2 separate regions of the Homo sapiens genome follow, and region 1 is linked to region 2. A link means that fine-mapping ties the variant in region 2 to the expression of a gene that starts in the linked region. Tissue or cell type: testis. Region 2 holds a variant in brackets; the other region holds the start of a gene. All regions are shown on one strand. Distances are from middle to middle. Region 1 holds the start of INTS6-AS1 (INTS6 antisense RNA 1). Region 2 has its middle 46 kb from the start of MIR4703.

The links.
Region 1: INTS6-AS1 starts here. The variant in region 2 is fine-mapped to the expression of INTS6-AS1 in testis (GTEx, PIP above 0.99).

What each region holds. Positions count from the first base shown.
Region 1 is chr13:51,450,885-51,456,259 of GRCh38, reverse strand. It overlaps INTS6-AS1 (INTS6 antisense RNA 1), which reads right to left and starts at 2,915. Exons shown (of 2, transcript NR_103812.1): 1 at 2,842-2,915; 2 at 1,544-2,257. It overlaps INTS6 (integrator complex subunit 6), which reads left to right and starts at 3,224. Exons shown (of 18, transcript NM_012141.3): 1 at 3,224-3,845; 2 at 4,205-4,282; 3 at 5,086-5,235. The coding sequence starts at 3,735. RefSeq lists silencers at 2,459-2,778, 2,869-3,068, 3,299-3,558, 3,799-4,068, 4,079-4,198 and 3 more and an enhancer at 3,189-3,238.
Region 2 is chr13:51,503,491-51,508,865 of GRCh38, reverse strand. No RefSeq gene overlaps it. Among named protein-coding and RNA genes, the nearest start is that of MIR4703, 46 kb to the left of the region's middle. The variant C/T (reference allele first, on the strand shown) is at 2,323.

The DNA.
Region 1 (5,375 bases), 53 kb after region 2:
TTGTGGGTCTCCTCTCTGCTGAGAGCTGGACACTTATTGGGATGACCTGCCTGCAGAAAGAAGCTACTCATTGCCCTCAGGTCTCCTCTGAGCTGTTCTGTCACTCAACAAAGCACCTCTTTGCCTTGCTCACCCTCCACTTGTCCACATACCTCATTCTTCCTGGATGTGGGACAATAACTCGGGACCTGCCAAATGGCATGGCTGAAAGAGCTGTAACACAAACGGGCTGAAATATGCCCCTTGCTTGCCATGTTGTGGGCAACACAACAAGAGAAGAGAGAAGAAGAGAAGAAGAAAGGAAAGAGAAGGGGGAAGAGAGGAGAGAAGAGCTGTGGCCCTTTAGGAAGCCTAGACCTAGGAGCTCCCTGTGACAACCTCTTTGGGGCTCTGCAGCTCCTGGCATCTCCAAGCTTCCAGGTGCCACTGCATTCCCTGGTGCCAGCTGTGGAAGCTGCTTGCAGTACACCTGGACCAGCCACAGCCTTGCAAGGGGCCAGCCCCTAGAGCTGCCCGCCCTCCTGCAGCTGGCATGCCGGGCTGTATACAGTGGCCGGACCCCATGCTTGCTCGCTCACACACCCCTCGCTGCTCCGCACCTGGCTTGCACTTGGCAGGTGTGGGATCCAGGCCGTAGTATGAGCAGAGTGCAGCCTGCTGGGACTGGTGGGCAGAATGAGCCCGACCAAAATTCGGGCAGAGGTGCCATTTTTCCAGCTGGAAAAGTGACACTCCAAGGATCCTGTGACAATGGCTCCACTGAAAAATGATTTCGAATAACTGTAATAATAGGTAAGGTCATTGTGAACGCATGTTAATCTTCAGTAGTCTAGTTTGATTTCTTTCAAACATTGCTTCTACTTAGCAACGCAATTGAAAAATAAATCTCCAATTTATAGGGGAAAAAAAACCTCCATAGATTGGAATAAAGGCCCTCTACTGTCTAGATCTCACCTGTGTTTCTAGATCTTGTACTATTCTACATGCACCTGTTGCTCCAACCTAGCTGAACTTCACTGTTCCTCAGGAAGCCCTCAGCAATGCTGTCTTAACTTCCTTTCTTCACATTTTCAATGTCGGGAAGATCTTTTCACTAGCAGCTTCCCCTTCCTTTACCCATATCCAAATCCTACCAGTCCTTTAAGACAGTGTTTCTTAAAACTGAATAATGAACAGACTCCTAAAATAAATTCTTATGATCCTAGAGAATGTTTTCAGTAGGCTGGGGTCCACAGACCAGTTTGAAAAGCACAAATATAAAGAACTAAAGAGCAATTGTATAAAATTATGCAAATGATCAAGTTGAAAGACAAATTTCATCTTTATAACTGGTAAAATAACTCGTATTTTGCCATAGAACTCTGATTCTTATCTTCAGATCTATGATCCGTTTAAGAAACACTAAGGCAAAGCTGAAACCTTGGAAAATGTTCCTGCATCACCCCAAGGTAATACATTTTTATTTTTTCTGATTTGGTGTCTAACAACTTTCTGCCTTGGAGTAGCTAGTAATATGTAGCATTTTCCTAGAAAACATAAGCTCTTTGAAGACAGGGACCACATTTTATTTATTTTTTATATGCACCACACCTAATACACAGTACATCCTCAGCAAGTACTGGCTGTAAAGCCTATATTCCATGCTCTTATTTTGTAGTCCAAATCACTTTAAAAATCACACTTCTTCTATTGTTCATACTCATAGAAGAGCATATTACTCAAATAGCTCTGCTATAAATTAACAGTAAGTTTCAGAAGTTATACCAAGTCACGAGACTCAGATTTTTAAAAAGTGCCACAAAGTGTCTCTTCTGTGTCAATGTTAATAGAACCCTTTCTTTAAATGATCAGTAGGCAAATTAAGAATTTCCGGATAAAGAACAAACTCTGGAAAAACAAAGCTAGTGGGAGAGGCCCTGTAAATACCTACCTAGTCTTACAAGGGCTGTCTCTAACTCAGCTTGTATTTTAGGCAGCGTCTTCAGTTTTTCAACTAATGTGTTTGAGAAAACTGTTTTCCTCGGACATGCAGGCGTGGACTCCTTACTTCAGGTAAGGTGACAGCAGCTTGACAGAGAGTGCCTTCCCTCCCACGGCATTTGGGACGAGGCTGAAGGAAAGACACAGGCGGGGTTACGGGAAACCCATTCTCTGCGCCATCTGGGCAAGCTGAAGTCAGTTTTTCCGCTTTCTCACGAGGTAATGGATTATCATGGGCTCAGGTCCCCTTCAGCTCTGAAACAGGTATTCTATGGCTCTAAGTAAACACGGCAAGAGACAGGTTATTTCTTTGGTAAGATCAGTTGTATTTCCCAGAGAATAAAACGGGCAACAAACCATTTATCGATATGTGAGTCTTCCCCCTAGGCCCTAGCTATTTGGGGTTGGATAAAGAAAAAGAGGGTTTGCTTCCTTTTTGGCGGGTCCTCCAATGACAGGGCTCCTGGCCCGCTGCGGGTCCAACTCCCACCTCTCGTGGCTCCCCCGAGGCCGAGCGAGGCTCCGTGCGAGGACAGCCCCTCAACCGCACTCCCCAGAGGGAGCGCTGGGACTCGCGGAGGAGATTAGTCCCCGGTCATAAACAACCTCTCACTTCCCCTCCCCCGCCCGCGCCCGCTCGCGCCGGGGCGGCGCGCCGGGGCGGCCCTCCGAGGCCCAGGAACCTCCTCCGGCGCCCGCGAGGCCCCGAGTCCTCCTCCGGAGGGCGGCTGCGGGCCTGCCCTCTTCTCCTAACCAGGTGTTTGTCCACTTTACTCAACCCTTCTTACTCGTCCACGCTACGGCCACCTCACAGGGGCGGCTGACGCCAGCCCCTTTTTCCCTCCCCTCGACCCCTATCACCTCCAACAGCCAAGGAGAGGCCGGCGGCCCTGACGCGCAGGCTCACCGCCGCGGCCGCCCCGCGCGCGCGGACGCGGCCCCCGCCCCCACCTCGCGGTCCTTCCGCAGTCCGGCCCCGCCCCTTCCCGAAGCCCGCCTCCGGGTCGGCCCGCCCGCCCGCTCGCGCGCACCCGACGCCCCGCCTCTGCGCGTGCTCAATAACTGTCCCCGGAGCCGGCCTACAAGCTTCCCCCGCCCCTGAGCTGTTTAAATATGCTAATGAAAGGATAGGGCCTGACCAGTAGAACGGCGAGGCGGTGTATCACGTGGCTCGGGGACGTGTCAGGGGCGGAGCCTCCGCAGCCCCTGCCCGAGTTAAAACCGGAGTGTGAGAGAGAAAAGCGCTTCAGTAGCGAGAGGGGCTGAGAAAGTGGTGACACCGCCGGGGTGCGGAGGGAGTCCCTGAAACTTCTCCCAACAGCCCCAGGGCCAATCTTCCCTCAGCCCACTCCCCTCTTCGCCAGCTCCCAGGTCCCCACTCCTGTACCGGGGGTGGGGTGGGGAGCCAGGCCCGTCTCCCGCTGGGACACACACAGGGGCCGGGAGCGGGGACGGGACCCCCGAGGCGGGGGGGACGAACCGACAGACAGACGGCTGGGCGCCCGCCCCAGCGGGCAGGCAGGCAGGAGGAGGCGGAGGCGGGGGTACGACGGGGAGCACTGGGTCTGGGGAGTTTCCTCTCAACTATCGGGGGAGAAACTCCCCGCAGCCGGAGGAAAGACCCAGACAGTGTTTTCCTCCCGGGGGCCGTGCTCCCCCGCCCCGCGTAGCGGCGGTCGCCGCCACCGGCGCCTCCACCTCTACCATCTCCTCTTTCTCCACCACCTCGGGCCCCGGTGTCCCCGGCCAGCACTATGCCCATCTTACTGTTCCTGATAGACACGTCTGCCTCTATGAACCAGCGCAGCCATCTGGGCACCACCTACCTGGACACGGCCAAAGGCGCGGTAGAGACCTTCATGAAGGTACCGACTGACCGAGCCCGGGCGGCGACCCCGGCCCGGCGGCCCGCGGGCGGCAGGGTGGGGGAGGGCGGCCGGGGCGGGGGTGTCGGGGACCTGACTGCGGGAGCTGCCGGGCTCGGGGACCCCCTCCCCCACCGCGCGGGCGGGCGGGCGCTGCGAGCCGGGTTCGGCCGGGGCCCGGGCTCCGGCCCCGGGCGGTGTGTGGGGAGCGATCTGTGTGTGGGGGACGGCGTGGAGGGGTGGCCGCTGCGTGTGCGGTACTGTGGGGGCGGCGGGGCCGCTGGGCGCCCCTTCTCCGCCTCGTAACCTCGCCTCTGTGCTTCCCTGTCGCCCGCCCTGTTCCTCCTCCCGTCCCGCAGCTCCGTGCCCGGGACCCTGCCAGCAGAGGAGACAGGTATATGCTGGTCACTTTCGAAGAGCCGCCCTATGCTATCAAGGTAACAGCCCTCGCCCTCCCCCTTTCCTCCCTTCCCTTCCCTGTTCCTTCCTCGCTCGCCCTCCCCGCCCCCCCATTCACCCTTCATTATGCTCCCCTCCCCCACCCGCTGCGCTCCCAGCCGCTGAGGTCTCTTCCCTGCGGGCTCCCACCCCCTCCCCCGCTCGGCAGCGTCCTAGCGCGGCGCGGAGTCGCGGGGCCACCGCCGTCCCCTCCCGGCCCGGCCCGGCAGCGGCGGCGGCGGCGGCGGCGGCGGCGCTGCTATCAACATGGCCGACATTTCCCCTCCGCGGCGTGAGCGGCAGCAATGAACTGTGGGGGATATTTATTCAAGTTAGCCGGAGTGACAGCCGGGCCCGGCCGCGCACAGCCCCGGTTTGCATTAAAGGGGAATCGGCCCGGCCGGCCCGGAAGCCAGATGCGGGGCTGCCAGGATTGGTCTTGTCAGATTCGTCCTAAGAGGGCCGGTGGGACAGCTGCAGGTTAACTTCCTAAGTCCGGCTCCCATCTGCTTCCACTAGTACCTTCACATACCCAAATTTTGGGTATTAGATTAGGTAGTAAATTTGTCAGTGAAGTTATAAAGTATTAAGGCAGTTAACTACCAAAACCTAGAGAGGAAGCTGGGTTATTCCTGGGCCACCTTTGGAAGAGAGTTTCCTCAGCAGCGGTACAGTATTAACACGTTAACCAAGCCAAACCAACCAAAAGTGAAGCTGCTACTTGGTGAACGTCAGATTATAACGGCTCTGTGTACATGGCTTTAAAAAATGAAAAAAAAAAATCTTACATTTTTCTTTTCAGGCTGGATGGAAAGAAAACCATGCAACGTTTATGAATGAATTGAAAAACCTTCAGGCTGAAGGACTTACGACTCTTGGCCAATCCCTAAGGACAGCTTTTGATTTATTAAATTTAAATAGATTAGTAACTGGCATAGACAACTATGGGCAGGTAGGTTGAATAATAAGGTGGCAAAATAGTTGATTTTTCATTTTGTGGAAAAACACAGTCCAGTCCAAAAACTACATAACATGAAATGCAAGTATAAAACATTCCAAATTAAAATAGAATATGCACATTGTTCAAAGGCA
Region 2 (5,375 bases):
CACTCTGACCTGGTCACAGAAGAAATCCGCTCATTTTCTTCTCTTAAGAGTCCTGGAGAAGTACATATTATTCCACTACCCAAATGTTTTGTAAATGCCTACTGTTCTGGATGCTAGGAAAACAGTGGTGAACAAAACTGACAAGCCTCCATGGGGCGTTTGGCCTAATAGGGATAAACAGACAATGAACTAAATAAGTAAATTATTTATGTAGGATGTTAGAAGATGGTAAGTGTTTATGGAGAAAATAGATCAGGGAAGGGGGAAAGAAGTGCTAGGGGAGGGGGTGTGTGTGGAGTAGAGGGGATGCTTACCACGTGAAATAGGGTAGTCAGGGAAGACCTCAGTGAGAAGGAAACATGGGAGTTAAGGCTTGAAGGAGGTGAGGGAGTGGCCAGTGCGGATGAAGACAGTTCCAGGCAAAGGGAACAGAAAATGCAAAGGCCTTTCAGTAGGAGCTTGCCAATATTTCAAGAACAGCTAGAAAGCCCATGTGGATGGAATAGAGTGAGCAGAAATAAGAGTAATGAAGACTAGATTGGCAAAAGGTAGAGTTGGAGGGCCAGATCTTATGGGTCTTGCAGACCACTGTGAGGACTTTGGCCTTTTTTTTTTCTTTGACAGAGTTTCGCTCTTGTCACCCAGGCTGGAGTGCAATGGCATGATCTCAGCTCGCTGCAACCTCAGCCTCTGGGTTCAAGTGATTCTCCTGCCTCAGCCTCCTGAGTAGCTGGGATTACAGGTGCCCGCCACCACACCCAGCTAATTTTTTTTTTGTATTTTTAGTAGAGATGGGGTTTCACCATGTTGGCCAGGCTGGTCTCAAACTCCTGACCTCAGGTGACCTGACCGCCTTGGCCTCCCAAAGTGCTGGGATTACAGGCATGAGCCACCGTGCCCAGGGACTTTGGCTTTTACTAGGACTGAGATAGGAAGCTGTTGGAGAATTTGATCAGAGAACTGACTTGATCTGGGTTACATTTTCAAAGGTTCCCAGAATCTTTGGTTGCTATAGAATATGGATTGTTAGGGGATAAGATGATAAATCAGGCAAGAGAAGATGAGGACCTGGGCCAGGATTGTAGCAGAGGAGGTAGTTGGATGTGGTCAGATTCTGGATCTATGTTGAAGGTAGGCCCAATAGGATTTCATGATGGATTAAATGCAGTGTATGAGAGAAAGGAAGAAATTAAAGATGAGTCAAAGGTTTTTTGGCCTGAACAACTGGAAAGATGAAGCTGCTAATGAAGTGAGATGAAGGTTGTAGAAGGGAGCAGATTTGGAGGGGAAGGCTAAGAATTTGGTTTTGTACATGTTGAGTTTGAGATGCTCTTTAGCCTTTAAAAGAGAGATAACAGGTTGTCAGTTGAATGTAAGAGCTCAGAGTTTTGGAGTGATATCTGCTGAAGATAAAAATTTGGGAGTCATCAAAATGGAATTGATTTTTAAAGCCATGACACTGAATGAAATAATGAAGGGAGTGGTTATGGGAAGAAAATATAAACGGTCCAAGGCCTGAACCCTGGTACTCCAGTGCTAAGTGGCTAAGCATACAGCTGTTATAGCGTGTTCACAAGTTATTGTAATCATTTATGCTTGTCTCACACTTCCACTAAACTGTCATCTCCTTGATGGAAAGAACTGGATCTTATTTCTTGTAACAGCTTTATGTGAAGTATAATTTATGTACCATAACACTGACTTGTTTAAATACACAATTCAATGACTTTCTGTTTTTACTAATTTTATATCTTCAATGACAATTATATGGTTAACACTTAATAAAAGTTTTTAAAATAAATGTTGAATTTTTAAATAAATGAATGAATGTATGTGATTTTTAGGTCAGCCCTTTACATCTCTCGATATCACTTAATTGCATGCAAAACAAGGTGGCTGACTAGAGAATTTTTAATTCTCTTTCAACTTTGAAATTTAAAGGTTCCAAATGTTTGTTTCTGAGGTGTGATAGTTACTTTTATGTATCAACTTGGCCAGGCCATGGGATATCCTGACACTTTATCAAACAATACTCTGGATGTACCTGTGAGGAAGTTTCTGGTGAGAATAATATCTGAACTGGAAGACTGAATAAAGCAGATTGCCCTCCCTAACGTGGGTGGACTTCATCCAATAAATTCCAGACCTGAATAGAACAAAAACCCGGAGTAAGAGGGAACTCCTCTTGCTTGACTGCGTAAGCTGAGAGACATCAGTCTTTTCTTACCTTTAGACTCCAACTGGAAAATCAGCTCTTCTTGGTTTTGAAGCATGATGGCTTCCGGACAAGCACTAATACCATTGACTCTCCTGATTCTCAGG[C/T]CTAAGAAGTTCAAGATAAAATTTTGGCAAATCAAATTCAGCAAGATATAAAAAGGAGATAATATGTAGTGAACAAGTGAGGGCTTATTCCAGGAACACAAGGTTGGTTAACATTGTGTTAATGTTTTGAACATTAATCAATGTAACTCATCATTTATTAAGAGATAAAAATCTCTCAGTAGATTTGGATTAAAAGGTAACTTTCTCAACCTAGTAAAGGACATCTACAATACAGAAACAAAAACAAAAAACTTAAGGTTAAGATCATCTTTAATGTTGAAAGATTGAATGTTTTTTTCCTAACCCTGGGAATACAGAAAACGTATCCACTATCACCATTTCTATTCAACATTGTGCTAGAGATCTGTCAAGACAATAAGGAGGGTGAGGGTGGAAAAAGAAGGGAAGAAACAGAAGAAACATAAATTTGAATGAAGAAGTAAAACTGGCTTTATTCACAGGTAAAATTATTGTATTAATAGAAAATCCCTAAGAACCAAGAAGAAATATAATAGAACTTATGAAATCTCAAGAAATAAGGCTATAGATCAGCATGGTGGCATGTGCTGATAATCCCAGCTACTTAAGAGGCTGAGACAGGAGAATTACTGGCACCTAGAAGTTCGAGGTAAGCTTGGGCAACATAGCAAGTCCCTGTCTCAAATTAAAAAGAGAAGAGATATAAAGTTAATATACAAAAGTCCATTGTATTTCTATACAAGAAAATAAACAATATAACAAGCAATGAACAACTGGAAAATGAAATTAGAATTCTGTTTATGGTAACATTAAAAATGAAATACTTATGGAAAATTAAATATACACGAAACCTATAGACTGAAAAATATAGAAGACTGCTGAATTTTAAAAAGGTCTAAATAAATGCCGTGATATATCATATTTATGGTATATCAGACTTTTTGTAAAAACTGACAAATGGATTTTAAAAGAACCAAGAATAGTCAAAATAATTTTGCAAAAGAAACAGTTGCAGAAATTACTCTACCTGATTTCAAGAAGCTATAGTGATCAAGACAGTGTGATTTGTCCAAACAATGGGCATGTAGAGCAGCATAATAAAATAGAATACATAAGTAAACACATACACCTATGATAACTGATATTCAACAATGGTACAAATATAATTCAATGGGAAAGTATAGTTTTTTCAAAAATGGTACCAAAGCAACTAGAAATCTACATGAAAAAAAATGAACCTCAACCCTATCTAACACCATACATAAAAATTTACTCAAAGTGGATTAAAGACATAAATATGAAAGCTAAAATGATAAAACTTCTGGAAAAAATGGGAGAAAATCTTTGTGGCAGTGGAGTATGCAAAGAAAAAGATGTTTTTGATAAGATACAAGAAAAGCATGATTCATGCTATGACAGAAATACTGAACACGTATAATAAAATAAAGTAAAATGAAATTTTAAAAGCACAATCCATACAAGAAAATAATGACAAATTTGATTTCATTAAAATTTTTTTTCTTTTTTTTTACAGAGTCTTGCTCTGTCGCCCAGGCTGGAGTGCAGTGGTGCAATCTCATCTCACTGCAAGCTCCACCTCCCAGGTTCACACCATTCATCTGCCTCAGCCTCCCAAGTAGCTGGGACTACAGGTGCCCGCCACCACGCCCAGCTAATTTTTTGTATTTTTAGTAGAGACGGGGTTTCACCGTGTTAGCCAGGATGGTCTCGATCTCCTGACCTCATGATCCGCCTGCCTCGGCCTCCCAAAGTGCTGGGATTACAGGTGTGAGCCACTGCACCTGGCCTAAATTTTGTTTTTAATTAGCTCTTCTAATGACTTCTTTTAAAATACAAAAATGCAAACCACAGACTGGAAAAATATATTTATAACACATATATTTGACAAAGGACTTTATTGAGAATATAAAACAAACTTTTACCACTCACTATTAAGAAGAAAAACAACCCAATTAAATAGGCAAAAGATTTGAACCAACACCTCACAAAGGAAGGTACGGGGAATGGCTGGTAAGTGCATGAAAATCCATCAGGGAAATGCAACTTAATCATCAAGAAAATGTAAATCCAAATCACAATAAGATATAACTTCGTGTCCATTAGAAAAACTAAAATTTAAAAAACTGGCAACCCCATCTGTGGGTGAGGATGTAAAGCAACCACCAATTTCTTATAAAACAAAATGTGCGCCCACCCTATGGCCCATCAAACTTACTCATAAGTATTTCTTACCCAAGGGAAATAAAAATATATGTTCACAAAACACCATATATTAATACAAGAATGTTCATAGCAGCTTTATTTATAATAGCCAAAACCTGGAAATAACCTGAATGTCCATCAGTAGAAGAACGGCTAAATAAATTGTGGTACGTCTTTACAAAAAAAATTACTCAACAATAAAAAAGCATATTCTTCCAATATATGCAACCATGTGGATGAATCTCGAAAACATTATGCTGAGTGAAAGAAGCCAGATACAAAAAACACACACCGTATGATTCTATTTGAAATTTTGGGAAAAACAAACTAATCAATAGTGACAGAAAGCAGATGCAGGGTGAAATCAGCTAGGATCTAGCCAGTGTTGTCTTGCTAACTAGTCATGCAAGCTTGAGCAGGTCACTAGACCTTCCTGCTCCTTCATTTCCTCAAATATAATAGATAATTAGACAAACCCAGGTCATATGTGCTAGCTGAGATTCAAGGTCTCTTCCAGTGCTAAATTCTTGGTCTCTTCTGCATCCAGACCCATGGTGATATAAAAGGAAAAAATGTATTCGTGATGCTTACATTGAATTCCTAAAACTTAGTATAATTGTCATGAAGTGGTTTTGTCAAAGAAGCGAATCATTGTCTAGATAATTTTTCTTTTGCCAGAGAAAGTTAGGAATTAATAATAAAATAGGCCAGAAAAGTGAAGAAAGGGTTCTAACTGCAGTGGCAGGAGGCCTGGGCTTTTGATAGAAAACGCTGAGTATGGTGGGGAGGGGGGGGAGGGGGGGAGGGAGGGTGGGGGGGGTTAGGCTAAGTAGCAGAAAGAAGTAACAGTT